Linked DNA regions of Homo sapiens: region 2 is linked to region 1. The links come from fine-mapping of genetic effects on gene expression. Tissue or cell type: whole blood. Region 1 holds a variant in brackets; the other region holds the start of a gene. All regions are shown on one strand. Distances are from middle to middle. Region 1 overlaps SYT9 (synaptotagmin 9). Region 2 holds the start of SYT9-AS1 (SYT9 antisense RNA 1).

The links. PIP is the estimated chance that this variant, and not a neighbour inherited with it, causes the effect.
Region 2: SYT9-AS1 starts here. The variant in region 1 is fine-mapped to the expression of SYT9-AS1 in whole blood (TOPMed, PIP above 0.99).

The regions. Positions count from the first base shown.
Region 1 is chr11:7,456,218-7,459,133 of GRCh38, forward strand. The region is part of intron 6 of SYT9 (synaptotagmin 9); the gene reads left to right. SYT9-AS1 (SYT9 antisense RNA 1) reads right to left here. Exons shown (of 5, transcript NR_103855.1): 3 at 1,579-1,742. Among named protein-coding and RNA genes, the nearest start is that of SYT9-AS1, 8.2 kb to the right of the region's middle. The variant A/G (reference allele first, on the strand shown) is at 1,310.
Region 2 is chr11:7,464,356-7,467,271 of GRCh38, forward strand. SYT9-AS1 (SYT9 antisense RNA 1) reads right to left here and starts at 1,480. Exons shown (of 5, transcript NR_103855.1): 1 at 1,398-1,480. SYT9 (synaptotagmin 9) reads left to right here. Exons shown (of 7, transcript NM_175733.4): 7 at 2,437-2,916. The coding sequence ends at 2,445.

The DNA of each region.
Region 1 (2,916 bases):
TTTGGACTTACTGCAGACCTTTTACTAAACATGGCAATTGAGCTTTTGCTCTCTGATCATGGAGAAGTTTCCAGTATGCAATAGTCAGGAGGCAGGAGGGGGCTGGTCAGTGTGTAAGTACTCAAGGGAGGATTAAAACAAGGTACAGTCTGCACACAGCTCCTCACAGTGGGTGGAGGCACCCAGAGGAGAGAGGCAAGCTGCCTGCACATGCAGCAGGCTGGTTACACCTCCCTCCAGTGTCTTCCCCATGTCAGGCAAATGAGAGCTAGAGGACCTTGGGATCTTGCTCTTTAGCCAGAAAATGGCCACCCTCCATAAGTGGTAATGGTGATATCCTGAAATCAAGTTCACAGGTGAACAGATCTAATGTCCATTTTATTGTTCACTAAAGTTTAGGGTCAGTTGAGAGTGGGTGATAAATATATGACTCTTCATTCATTATCTCTTTGGTATTTATATTTTTGACTTATTTTTTCAGAACTCCATTGGTCCCTATTCAGGAAATGCTAAATTTAAACAGCCCCGTCCTGTTTTGGGACCAGCCACCTAGAGTTCTCAAGTGCTAAAGGCAACGACCTCCTTCCCATCCTCACTCACCAGTAATTCCACAGGGCCAGGCTCAGTGAGATCTGTCAAGGCAAGAGGGGTGCTTCAGCTGATCCCATACTATCACTCAATTCTGGTTTTCTGACTCTCTTATTTGTTTTCAATCCAACCTCTACACTCCTTCAAGTACTAAAGTACAAATCTGAGCATGTAACTCTCCCACTTAAAAATCCTTCAATAACTGCCCTTCATTCTGAACAAGATCAAGATCGAGTTCCCTACCTTGGCATTCAAGGTCCTCTGCGACCCTGCCTCCATCTCCTCCTTATACTTTATGTTGGGGCCACACCTAATGGCTGGTGGTTCACACAGTGCTTTCTATTCACCCCCATGCCCTTGCTTCTGCTTTAACTTTTTCTTGTGCTGTCCTTTCAACCCCTCTTTTCCTGCCTAGATCCAGCCTGTCTTTTTAGCATCTAATCAGTTGTCAGCTTCTTCAGGAAGCATTCTGAAGATCCTGTGGTATGAGCTAAATGCTTCTCGTCTGTGCTATCCTCTCCTAGCACCCTGTGCCTGCCCCTGACATAGCATTTGGTGCCACTTGATATTATCTGTGTGTGTGTCATCCCCAGCACCTCCCACTGCTCCTTGAGAATGGGCCTAAGTGTTATTCATCATTGTATAACAAGCACCTGGCAAAATGCCTGGCACAAAGTCAGCATTGAATAAGTTCTTGTTGGACAGAATTTCAATTTCTTCT[A/G]TCTTACAACTTGTAAAATGATTTTTACAAGTTTTACTTACTGATTTCTTAGATAAATTCTCCATGTCAATTTTTCTTCAAATCTACAGGCATAGTGGTTCTATTAATGCACCAAAGCAACTGAGAGCTAGCTCTGAATGCCAAAGAGCCAGGCAACACCCATGAGAATGAAGACAGTGGCAGTGAAGGTCCCAGTCATCATCTCAGATGGATTTGCAGTGTCATGAGGGCTCAAACAGTTCTCATAAAGGTCTTTATAAGAGACTTACCTTAGTTTAAAAGGCAGGTTGGGAAACCCATGACCATTTCCTCCAGAAAGCACAGAATTCCTGCAAGCCTGGGGTCACTATTTTGGCTGCCATGCTGTCAGCTTATCCCAGCAATCTTTCAAGGTGCTTCACTGTATGGCATCATTTGCTGTATTGTAAGAATTCTGTTCAAGTAAGAATCAATCAAGCTTCCTTTGAAACAATCACTTTGCATAAGGAAATGGGAGTTTCAAGGATGTATTTATTTGTTCAACAAATATTGATTGAATACCTACTATAGGTGCTGAAGATACATTTTTAGGGACAAAATAGTCAAAAATCTTTGCTCTAGTGAAACTTGACTAGTGGGAGACACAGATGTATTATGTTATAGTGAAGGTAAATGCTATGAAGAATAAAATAGGGCCGGGTGCGGTGGCGCACACCTGTAATCCCAGCGCTTTGGGAGGCTGTGATGGGCGGATCACCTGAGGTCAGGAGTTCGAGACTAGACTGACCAACATGGCAAAACCCCTTCTCTACTAAAAGTACAAAAATTAGCCGGGCATGGTGGCGGTCGCCTGTAATCCCAGCCACTCAAAAGGCTGAGGCAGGAGAGTCACTTGAACCTGGGAGGCAGAGGTTGCAGTGAGCCGAGATCATGCTACTGCACTCCAGCCTGGGCAACAAGAGTGAGACTCCATCTCAAAAAAATTAATTAATTAATTTAATTTAATAGAGCAAGCAATGGGGATCAGAAGTGTGACATAGATTGTTTACTTTTTACAGGGGGTTAATTTTAATGGAGGTAATTGTAGGGCTCACAAACAATTGCAATATTTGAGCAAACACTTGAAGGAGGTGAGGGAGCAAGCCCTGTGGCCATGCAGAAATACACGCTAAGGGAACGGCCAATACAAAGGCCTTAAGGAGGTTCACACGAGGATAGTGAGGAGAGTAATGTGGGGGATGCAGGAGAGAAAAAAGAGAGAGAAGTAGGGGATGAGATCAGAAAGGTAACAGCGGGCAGAGCTCAGGTAACTGGAACCCAGTAGAGCTTCAAAAGTACTTTGGCTCATTCGCCAACATGGCAATTTTTAAGAGAGATGTGACATGATCCAAAGTTATCACTGATCTCTCTGCTGCTGTGTTGAGAATAGACTAGATAATGACAAGGTTGGACGTGAGAATACCCATTAGGAGTCTACTGCTATAATCTAGATGGCAATAACAGAGGCTTGGACAGTGTAGAAGCAAGGAACATGGTGAGAAATGGTTACATTCTGGGTATATTTTGAAGGGAGACCCAATAGGGTTTTCTGTAGGGTATGAGAGAGAAAAGTAAAGGATGATTCCAAG
Region 2 (2,916 bases), 8.1 kb after region 1:
TTTTAATACATCAGAAATGTAGACTGGACCTACAGAGGGAATTGACATAATTGCTAAAGCTTGGACTTTGAAATTGGAAGTCTTGGGTTTAAATCTCAGCTCTGACACTTAGTCACAGTGTGGCCTTGTGCAAATTAGTGTCTCTACAACGCTGCATCCTCCATTAAAGAACCCCACGGGGTCTTTTAAGAACTTGTAAAGTCCATATCCCAGTGCCTGGCATACAATAAGTACCCAAAAATGAAGGAATATGGGCTGATACCATCACAACTAATTCCAGACCACATTCATTGGTGACACTGAGCCTGTTAACAATTTGCTTTCTCTGATGGGAAGGAACTCAGGAATTGGCAAACTGATATGGGTATGGGTTTCACAGTTGAAAGAGCGGCTAGGGAACCACGGGCCTGATGTAGATGGTGGCTTAGAAAGTAGAGCTATTCGGGGCCAGGCGCGGTGGCTCACGCCTGTAATCCCAGTACTTTGGGAGGCCGAGGCGGGCGGATCACGAGGTCAGGAGATCAAGACCATCATGGCTAACACAGTGAAACCCCGTCTCTACTAAAAATACAAAAAAAAAAAATTAGCCGGGCGTGGTGGCGGGCGCCTGTAGTCCCAGCTACTCAGGAGGCTGAGGCAGGAGAATGGCATGAACCCGGGAGGTGGAGCTTGCAGTGAGTCGAGATTGCGCCACTGCACTCCAGCCTGGGGACAGAGCAAGACTCCATCTCAAAAAAAACGAAAGTAGAGCTATTTGGATGGTGCTCCAGGGTAGCAGCTGATCTGGCAAACTGATATTTGAACCACAATATTAAGACAAATATCATTCAGTCTTTCTTCCTAGACACAGAAACAAAGACCCCTTTCCCAGAGATGTGTGTGTGTGCCCACACACATGCACACACTTCAAAGCCACGGGTCACAATCAAACGTGGTTTCCCTTTGCAGTGAACACACTGGCTTTTAATACTTTCCTTAAGTAAGTTATAGCCTCACATGTGAACTTTTGATCTCTGAAATGAAGTCCATAAATTTCATTGTCAGAATGGTTGCTACTCTTTTATAGTTTACGTGTAAATTTTGTTATTCCTATATCCATAGAAGTCACTTCAGTTTTTTCTCTCTATGGCCACAGTATTACTACATTTAATCTGTGCTGGAAGGTGCCCTGAGTTTAAATTAAGTTGAATGCTGGGCTGAGTGTGAAACACAAGAGATACTGCTAGTCTAAGTCTGGGGCTTCCTTAAGAGAGCCCCTCCTTCACATCTCGGAAACAAGGAATGATGTTGCACCACTCAGACCTCATCTTTCCATCCCAGCTGTATTAGTCCATTTTCACGCTGCTGACAAAGACATATCCGAGAGTGGGAAGAAAAAGAGGTTTAACTGGACTTACAGTTCCACATGGCTGGGGAGGCCTCAGAATCATGGCAGGAGGCAAAAGGCACTTCTTACATGGCAGCAGCAAGAGAAAATGAGGAAGAAGCAAAAGCAGAAACCCCTGATAAACCCATCAGATCTCGTGAGACTTATTCACTATCACAAGAACAGCACGGGGAAGACCGGCCCCCATGATTCAATTACCTCCCCTGCCGGGTCCCTTCCCACAACACGTGGGAAGTCTGGGAGGTACAACTCAAGTTGAGATTTGGGTGGGGGCACAACTAAATCATATCACCAGCCTTACCTCCGACCACTTCATTCCTCACACTACAGTCCAGTCACACCAAATTGTGATGATTCCTTCAATGCACCATGCCCTTTATTGCATTCTGCCTTTGCACAGTCTCTTTCCTCTACCCCAAGTGACCCTTCTTCTTTCCAGAGGGATTCCTCTTCAGCCTAAATGGCTTAGCTCAAGACTCATCAATCAGAATGCTCTCTATAGACCTCCTCAATCCCTTTGAAGTTACTTTCTCCCTTCCCATTGCCCCTGCAGTATTCTATGCAGCTTCTCACATCATAATATCTCCATCTGTGAGCCCTTTGAAAGCAGGGGGAGTGTCCTACTTATGGGCTTAGTATCCCCAGCATCTATTACCATGCCTGGCACTTGTTTGGTGCACATTAAAAATGTATGAATGGGCCAGGCACAGTGACTCACGCCTGTAATCCCACCACTTTGGGAGGCCGAGGCAGGCAGATCACAAGGTCAGGAGTTCGAGCCCAGCCTGGCCAACATGGTGACACCCTGTCTCTACTAAAAATACAAAAATTAGCCAGGTGTGGCGGCGGGCACCTGTAATCCCAGCTACTTGGGAGGCTGAGGCAGGAGAATTGCTTGAACCCAGGAGGCGGAGGTTGCAGTGAGCCAAGATCGCGCCACTGCACTCCAGCCTGGGTGACAGAGCAAGACTCTGTCTCAAAAAAAAAAAAAAAAGAAAAAAAATGTATGAATGAAAGCCAAATTATTTTTTTGTTTTTTCTTCCTGCAGAAACGATGACCATGGGTAAGAGGACTGCTTGTGCCAAGGACAAAATAGGACAACCATCTCACAAAGATCTTAAGTAACTTTTTCCATCCAGCAACATCCAGACGATTTCAGTGACCAAATGCTCAGCTGTAACCACAGCACTAACTGGCCTTCTTTCCAGATTGGGTTTGGTGAACCTGAATGGTCCAGCCACCTTCTGCAGGTGGCCCAAGGTGATGTGCTGCAGGGAAGCATGTCTCTCATGCCAAGAACCAAGATCGGACTATGAACAAAAACAAATGATAGATATAGTGACAGTACCAAGAGTACCAGGACTCAATGTTTCATATGAAGCCCTTGGTGATGAGGACATAGCATCTGCCCTGGAAATCGTTATTCCAACATAATATTATTTTCTAGAATGCCCTGGAAGGACAGAATATTTAAAAATATATCCAGGTGCTAAATAGGCAGCAGATCTCAATTCACACATGACTACCT